Regions from separate parts of the Homo sapiens genome. Here region 2 is linked to region 1. Evidence: fine-mapped expression QTL. A gene starts in region 1. The other region holds a variant in brackets. All regions are shown on one strand. Distances are between the middles of the regions.

Region 1 (4,390 bases):
ATTCCCAAGTGCACAAGGGACAGGCTCGATTTCTTGGAAATCCTGCGATCTGGGGACGCATCCACAGAGGAGCTGAACTGTGCCCTGTAGAGACCAGTTCTCGCCTCCGACCGGTCTGTGTGCGCACGCTCGGGGCGGTGATGGTCCCTTTTGAGAAGAGGGTTGTTTTCGAGTCGGGCCACAGTCACTGGCCATGGACTCGCGGGGAAGGCCATGTCCTTTCTCCCCTCAGCCCCTTCCCCGTTCCCGGTTTACATCTCAAGGGGAAAGCGCACGCGGGGTCTCCCAGCACCGTCACCACCGCTGTGGCTGTCAGCCAGGCGCTCGCAGCGGCGCCCTTTCGGCCCTGGGGCAGTTCCTGAGACTTCCTGCCGCTGGCTTGGGGATGCGGGGGTGCAGCCCGGGCCCGGGCCACCGGCGGCGGACGCGCGTGGCGGGGCGGGGCAGAGGTTGAGAACCGCTGACTGCGAAGTCCGGGTGCGGGGAAGGGAAGGGAGCGAGGTGCGGGGGAGGCAGAGGGGCCGGCAGCCCCTAGGCGGCTACTCCTTGTCGTCCACGAGGTCGGCGAGCTCCTGGAGCACTCGCAGGCGGCCGCTGGCGTCGATACGGCGCTTCTCGCGGATGAGGTCTTCCAGGCTGTGAAACCTGGCGGTGTGGACCTTGTTCTCTCCCAGGTGCACCTTGAGATAGTACTGCTGCTGCGGGGGCTGCGTGCCTGCCGGCACCTCCCCTCCCGCCTTGAACTCCCGCTTGCCAAAGCGGCACCAGGCGGCGAAGCTCTCCGAGTTCGTCCAGCAGATCTCCTCGCTCTTGAGGCCCAGGTGGCCGCAGGCGTTCTGCACCACCAGCTCGGCCACCAGCGGGCGGTAGCGGTACCAGCTATTCACCACCCGGCCCACGTTGGCCGCGCCCGCCTCATACAGGCTGTCCTGGCGGATCTCGCCTTGGTGCAGGTGGATGATCTGCCCGCCGCCCACGTAGACGGCCCAGTGCGGGGCGGGCGCGGGCGGCTCCGGCGCGGGCTGCAGCCACAGCAGCTCCAGCAGGTCGCCGGGTTCGCAGAGCGCTGGCAGCGCGGTGACCGCGTAGACGCTTAGGTCGGCGCCCTGAGGGCCACCGCTCACTTTGGAAAAGATGCATTCCTGGCCCCGAAAGGCGGAAAACTGAGTCTCGTTGAGGACCAGCTGGTGCAGCAGGTGGTGGTGGTGGCGGCTGGGGCTCTCCGGGCAGGGGGTGCAACCCGGGGGGGCCTTCACGCCAAACTTGTCGGGCTGCCCGCGTTCGTCCAGGTCTTCCTCATCATCCGAGAAGAAGTAGGCAACCCCGACCCGCAGTTCGTCCTTTTCAATCCCCGACGGGTCCCCTGTGGGCAACTCGCTGTAGTTGAGGTGGGTGATGCGGTCCAGTTGGTTGCCCATCAATGAGGTGGCGAGGCGAGGGCCAGGAGCGGGGATCTGCGGAGGCACAGAGAGGCAGAGACACCGTCAGAGTCCGGGCTGCCCCTTTCGGTGTCCCTCCCCAAGACGTGCAGTGCCCCTGGGACCTGCCGGCTAGCTTACGTGCCCTCACCGGAGTCACCCTTTCCAGCCGAGTCCTCCGTGCCTCCCCAGGGGTACGAGGGGCGGAGAAGCCGCCACAGGTCAGGCGAGAGCAGACGCCACCACACAGCCTCCGACCCCTTCCGGGAACTCGGTCCAACTCCCAGAAGAAAACACCCAGGCTGGCTGGAGAGCTTGCGGGGTCCCGGTGGGGAGGAGAGTGCTGGCTGTGGCAGTGTGGGAGACGGACACCCAGGAAGGACCGAGGGGTGGGCTGAAAGGGAGAAGGGAGCCTAAGGCCAGTGAGCTGGGAGCAAGCTCCCATTTCTGTCCCCACCCTCTCCAGCCCACCTCCCAGTTTTGCACTAGGTTGCCTTCCTCCCCTTACAGCGGCTCGCACAATGACAATCAGACACATTCTCAGGCATTCACTTGACACCAGCAACATTTTGGACACTTGGGAGTCCAGACACTGGCAGCCTGGTATACTGGTGTATGTCACATACACCCACAATGACAAACCTTCGCGACGACACACTGGCACACTTAGACCCCACACATTCGTACACAATTTCAGCTCCACGCTTGCACGCTCGCCGTTGCACGTACGCCCAAGCACCCGGGCACACCTGCCCTCACAGGCAGGTGCACTCTGCCCCTTACTTCTCTTGCCTTGTCCCCATCAGGGCCAATGGGACTGCGCCAGGGCGAGGCTGCTCTGTCTAAAATAACCTAACAAAGAGGCAGGGGAAGGATGGAGAAAGCCAGTGCAGTGTATGTGTGTGGGTGTGGGTGGGAGCGTGTGTGTGTAGAGAGGTTCACTTTTAGCCCAAAGACCCCTCTCCCTCCTACCCAGCACAGGATCCAAACAATCGGATGAAGAAAAACCGTTTCCAAGGCAAAGAAAGCCGCTTCTCCCTACCCGTGATTTCCCTGCTCCCGAAACCCCAAACTCCTTTAAAGTCTCCTGGTCCCCATGGGTGCTGAGGAAGCGGCGGTGGCGAGTGGGTCCTGGGCTGCGCGTGGGGCTGCGGCTCCGCTCTACCCCGAGCCGAATCGTGCGGTGCGGCGCCCGTGCGCCTCCAGGTCTGCGCTGGCCGGGGCGCCTGCTCCCACTGGACAGTCCCGGCTCGGCTCTGCTTTCCCACCGCCGCGCCGACGACTCTAAGTAGCCGGAGCAGCCGGTCCCAGGGCCCGCCCCAGGACGCGCTCATTGGTTGGGGCGGGTGCTCGAGCTGTGTCAATCTTCGCCGGCGGGGGAGGGGAGCAGAGGCGGGCCTCCTGTGCGCTTTGCTCTGCTCCGCTCCGCCCCGCCCCGTACCCCGCACACCCGACCGCGCGCCGCCCCGGGGAGCGGAGGTGTGCGCACCCGCGGGGGGCGCGGCGCTTTCTGCCAGGTGCCGATGCCCGCTTGCGCCCGCGCCCCCCAGCTCATCCGAGCTGATTGTGACTGAGAACACAGCCCGCCCGCGTTCCGTGTTCCAGGAAGACAGACTCCAGCGGGGAAGCTGAGTCTGGGTATGGAGAAGAAACCCCAGGGCACCCCAGTATGGCCCAGGCACTGCGAGCGGCCCGGGGCAGGCAGCGACATTGCCCGAGGCGGGCGTCTGGGCCCTGCTGGGATCCCCCAGAGCCTTGGTTCCCGATGGCCCCTAGGCTGGTCCTTGGATCGAAGACCCTTTTCGTTCCCCAGACGTCTTTGAAATTGCTCCTGCGACGTTTGGCTCCTCTTCTTTGACTGGAGTGAGGCTGCTGACCCAGAGCTGATGCCCGATTTAAAAGGAGCTTGGTGTCAAATGCCACCCAAAAGCCTGAGCTTTGGCCGGTGCATTCCCTGGCTGTGCCTATGATATTGGCCTCCAATTTTCTGAATATAGGAGGAGTACCTCACAACTCATGTATGTGAGTTCATACATGCAAGCAGAGAGTAGGATGTAAAAGTGTTTTCCAAGCCTCAGAATTGGGATTGCTAAGCAAGTTTTGTTTGGTTTTGTGGGAAAGGAGGCTCCAGCAGTAGTTAATGATTACATTTCTGGATGGAAAGTTAATGAATGAATGTGTTCTGAATATTGGATGCTGAAAAAATGAACTTCATATATACAACATTCCAGACCAATAGTTTCAAAAGTTCCTAACATTAAGCCTCAAAGAGTTCTTAGACATCTGGTTCTGGCCCCAATGCTACTCATCTTTAAGCCTGGGCTCCAGCAGCTTTTCTATGAAGCCTCTTTTCTTTCCCAATGAGGAATTTGATACTTCCTATTTGAACCCCCCACCTCTTCCCTACAAAGCGAATTCCTTGAGAATAGACTTTGCATTCTGCACAACCTTGTATTCTGGGCCTCTTTCCCAATGCTAGTCATGCAGTGTGTTCCATCAGTAATAGTAAAAATGAAAACAGCCTGTATTGACCACTTATACGTGGTCAGACACTTAAGAGTAAATTAAGTAGACAATTTAATCATTATTCCTCTGTAGGGTACTCACTAATATCCGAATTGTAACAAACAGGGAAACAAAAGCTCCAATACTAGTACCAGCAATCCATCCAAGCCTACGGGATACCAGATCCAGTCTTTCACTAAGTTATAGTGTTTATTGAATAAAATCTTGTTTCATAAAATGAGAAAACTGGTGTTTCAGAGAAGTTAGATGATTGGCTCAAGGTTACATGGAGACTGATCCATATTACAACCCCCTTTTTCTTTGCTAGACTTTTCTGCTTGAATATCTTCAAACCGCCAAGCCTCCAGTTTATGTTTGCTTTCTGAAGGTCTCTGTACACCCCCACAGCCTCCAAATGCAGTGATTTATCAAATTAGATGCTAAAATATTGCTGGAAAAAATGGTTT
Region 2 (4,390 bases), 100 kb after region 1:
CTCCTCTGTGAGTGACAGCAATCCAATTGAACTGGCCCTGAACTGGAGACTCAGAAATGGGGAGACAGGTTACCGAAGCAGAGAATGGAATGTGCCTCTAGGCATGCATCTAGGCTGAGCTCCTGGATTTCTGGCTTAAGGTTGCTTCACAGGATCCTCAATGTAGGGTCAGGGCCCAGCCTGTTGGAGGATTCTGCGAGCACCGGAGGGGCAGCCTGCCAAGCAAGGCAAGGCAATGCACTAATGAGCACTCACGTGTCCAGGCCTGTTTGGGGTGTGAAGAATTAATGGAGGAGTGATTCTCCTGCCCTGGGACTGCTCCCAGGGACTCCTGCTCCCTGGGACTGCTGCTGCTGCCTATTCTGTCTACACGAGGACCCTACGCTGATTTTAACCCCACAGAAACCAGGTCATTGCTCTAACTACAGATTCTGTCAAATATTTTATGACAAAATAGGACTGAATGTGTAGAATAATGGTTTTAAATTTAAAAATATATATTTTGCAACATCTCTTACTAGATATTGATGATGTGACCTCACTCACTAACCCCCATTTTTATTGAGTCAGGAAGGGTAATGTCCTAGGGAAGGAAGGGGTAGACAGCTGAGAACCCAGGTCACTGGAGGAGAAGCAAGATATGGTGGAGTAGAAGTCCCTACTAGACAGAAAACAGAAATAAAAACCCCTTTATTTTAAGGAAAAAGAGAAAGGAAGATTAAGACAAAAGGTGAAATTCTGGAGTCCTGTCTCCTTCGTGGGGCAATGAATACAAAAATTACTAACCTCAGGCAGCTACAAGAGAAAGGTGAAAACAAAGGGGCTTTCGCCCCACTTTACCATATGGGACTCTGAGTGGTGGATCCCTCCCAGGCTGTCCCTTAGCAAAACACAAATGCTAGAAAAGTGGTCAGCCAGGGAGAGGACAGTGATAGTGCCCCTGCCTCTCTGCTCCGGGGTGACATGAGGCTGCTGCAGGAGTTCTTGCTCCATCCCACTGGGGAGCAGAGGATGCTGAGTTGAGAGCCAGAGGTCTGGCCTGAGTGGAGAGGGGCAAGGCTGCTGTGTTCACCTTCTCTGCTGGGACCTAAATGAGGATGTGGCAGGGGCTCAGTGGGTCCATAGCACCAGTGAAAGCAGGGAAGAGCTGGTCAGCGGTTTAATAATATTGGGGAGTCAGGTGGTGAGGCTGTCCAGCCATAGAACAAGCAGTAGAAGCCAGTAGACCATTCAGGGGCCAGGAGGAGTTAGGACGGCGCCATGGGCTATGGGAGCCATCAGGACTTGAACAGCCCAAGACCACATGAGGGTCAGACACTCAACCGCTTTGTGTCCCTCTTGAACCGAACACCTTGGAATTCAGGGGAGAGAATTAACTTTGAATTGATTGACTGTCCTAAAGATCCTTTCTTAAATGTGAAAGTTGAAGACAGCTTTAATTAACAAATATTATTTCCTATCATCTTATGCCACCTTGAAAAGTGAGAAGTTCAGATAAGCTACAGTAAATTTACTATGGTAAATTCAAAGTGTATAATTGTTTGTTTGTTTTTAATATCACTGAGCTGTAGCGTGTAAAGCAAATCATGAGAGTCCAAACAGGCAGGTTATACATGTATGCTTCGTAAAACATCTCACATTTTCACTTGTATTTCTGAGTTGATGGCTTTAGCAAAAGACTCCTCAAGAAGAAAGCGAACTTTCTTTTTTTGTTGTTCCAGTTAAGGAACAAATATCAAGTCACAGAAGGGATTATCACAGCAGTGGCAACAAAGTCTAGAGAGTTGAGGGCCACAGAGTGCTTGCCACAGTCCTGGCCTCCTTGGAGTTCCAGGTAGCCCGACACATCTGCATGACTTACTTTTGGGCTGGTGAATGATACAGGGAGGGAGACAGGAACCAACCTTTAGAGAGAACCTATTATGGGCTTACAACTTTGCATGCATGGCCAAATTTAACCATGCCAGCACCCAGAGGGTAAGTTATCCTCATCTTATGAAAGAAGAACCTGGAGCTAAGGAGATTCAATGCCTTGCCCAAGTTGCAAAACTCCTAAATA[C/T]AGACCTTGGATTGGAATCCAAGTCTTTGTGATTTTTGTTCTCTGCTCTTATCCCTAAGCCACAGTGGAAACTTTGGCACATCTGACTGCACTGTTTCTGTTTTTATTTTTAAATCCAGCCAAAGCCTCTTCTCATTGTTGTATCAGTTGTCTCTGGGTAACCAGGATGTTTGATAGGAGGAGTAAAGGAAGTAGGCCTACTAGCAGAGGGAAGGCAAATTTGACAGTGTCCCTGTGATGTGATTATATAAGGCTGATTCACAATCTTGCACCAATAATTTAAAGGCATACATTTTATTGTAATTTAATCCATTTCAATTTCATTAAATTCACTTTCATTCAATTCAGTTCAGTTCAGTTAACAAGGCTTCCCTGTAGGAGGCTTTAGTTTAGCCTCTAGGAACATGGAGATTAATTAGATTGTTCCTGTCCTGTCCTCAGGAAGCTCACAATCAGATGCAAGGACAACAGTCAGGTTTTAGCTTAAATACCTAATTATATAATCTTCATAAACAATTTTTTATGGAAAGAATATATTTCAAAATTCTGCATTAATTTATTAACAACTAACTACCAAATAGTTTTCCTGGCATATGAATATTTAAAAAGTGCCTTGTTCACTATTTATTTCCACAGCGGCATATAATTACTAATTTTGAAGATGATTCAATGATGTAAAAGAGTATTTACTCATATTTCTATTCGGAAGCAATCAGTGTATCTAAGAAAATATGTTGTTTGTTTTCAAAATCTTTACATAAAAACAACTTCCAACATGACTTGTTAAATGTAATTGTGTTGTTTATCTGAATGAGAAAATTACAAAATGAATATATTGTAACACATTTTAGTAAGAAAAAGAATGGTCAAATACTGAAAACTAGTTCCTCCTTGTGAGCGTTATTTAAAGCTATTGATTTGGGATTATTTAAAATACCATTTACAAACATTTTACAAATAATTCTCTGCAGTTATAAAAATACAACTTTTAGATAAAACTCACTTGTAATCCATGATGGTGCAATTTTGTTTTTTTTTTTTAATTTAGCTGGATTATGTTTTGAAGTTTAATATAATTAAGTCTTATTTTAAGATCAAACTAAGTTGAATTGAGGCTTATTTAATAGACATTTGAATTCATGGTAAAGTCACCAGAAAAGTCAAGATTTAAAAACCATTGACATGCTAAATACAAAATTCAGTTATAATATCCAACCTTTTTCTTTTTTTTTTTTTTTCTTGAGATGGAGTCTCTCTCTGTCGTCCATGCTGTAGTGCAGTGGCACCATCTCGGCTCACTGCAATCTCAGGCCATTCTCCTGCCTCACCCTCCTGAGTAGCTGGGACTACACGTGTGTGCCACCACACCTGGCAAATTTTTGTACTTTTAGTAGACATAGGGCCTCACCATGTTGGCCAGGCTGGTCTCGAACTCCTAACCTCAGGTGATCTGCCTGCCTTGGCCTTCCAAAATGCGGAGATTACAGGTGTGAGTCACCATGCCTGGCCAATAATATCCAAACTTGATGAGATTACTTGGGTTAGTTTATAAGTGGTATTTGTAACAAGTTAATACGATAGAACTTTTAAAGATGACAGCACTGCTCACACCGGCCTTTTCAGCAAAGGAATATCTTAATATACTTCTTGCCACCACGCTTAACTTGAACAGTTTTAAGTTGCCTAACATTGGGGAACACTGTGCTTCCCAGCATCTCACCTAATGTTGCCTTATCACTATCACAAGAATAGAAACAACTGATATTATCATTATTTTTTGAGACACACTTTTCCATAATAACATCCATTGCAATTTTAATGAAACCCAAATGGAAATTCAATTGATTAAAAACCCATCCTTTTTTTCATTTCCTCATTTTCAATGTAATTGAAACATTAACTTGAGTTGAGAATAGAAAAAAATTAAAAACTCAAAAAAAATATTAAGTGCAATGTGTTGGTATCATCCTGCATGTCATGTATTTGCCATCTTTGGTCCATGGGGAGCTGATTCTGGCAGTCCGCAGTACCACTGGAGACCTAACCCAGAACCATAGGAATCAAGCTCCCATGCTGATCGGGAACAAACTCCATTGTGTGTACATTTTTCAAAAATAAATGTTTTCATGGACCCTCCAATATGGAATTAGAGTATCTTTATCCTCATATTACTTAAATATGCATAAATATAAAATTGGATATAAACTCTTTGTGCTTTTATTTTTTACTTTTATTTTGAGACAGACTCTCACTCTGTAGCCCAGGCTGGAGTGCAGCAAGCATGATCTCGGCTCACTGCAACCTCCACCTCAGGGGCTCAAGCTAGTCTCC

Which allele goes with the higher level. Alleles are on the strand shown, and positions count from the first base shown. SD is a standard deviation of normalised expression in the study named.
In carriers of allele C in region 2, the expression in left ventricle of the gene that starts at base 2,681 in region 1 tends to be lower than with T alone (small effect, 0.36 SD a copy in GTEx).

What was found. PIP is the estimated chance that this variant, and not a neighbour inherited with it, causes the effect.
Region 2: its variant is fine-mapped to the expression of LRATD1 in left ventricle (GTEx, PIP above 0.99).

Annotation. Positions count from the first base shown.
Region 1 is chr2:14,631,008-14,635,397 of GRCh38, reverse strand. It overlaps LRATD1 (LRAT domain containing 1), which reads right to left and starts at 2,681. Exons shown (of 2, transcript NM_145175.4): 1 at 2,461-2,681; 2 at 1-1,454. The coding sequence starts at 1,418. The coding sequence ends at 540.
Region 2 is chr2:14,531,129-14,535,518 of GRCh38, reverse strand. No RefSeq gene overlaps it. Among named protein-coding and RNA genes, the nearest start is that of LRATD1, 99 kb to the left of the region's middle. The variant C/T (reference allele first, on the strand shown) is at 2,060.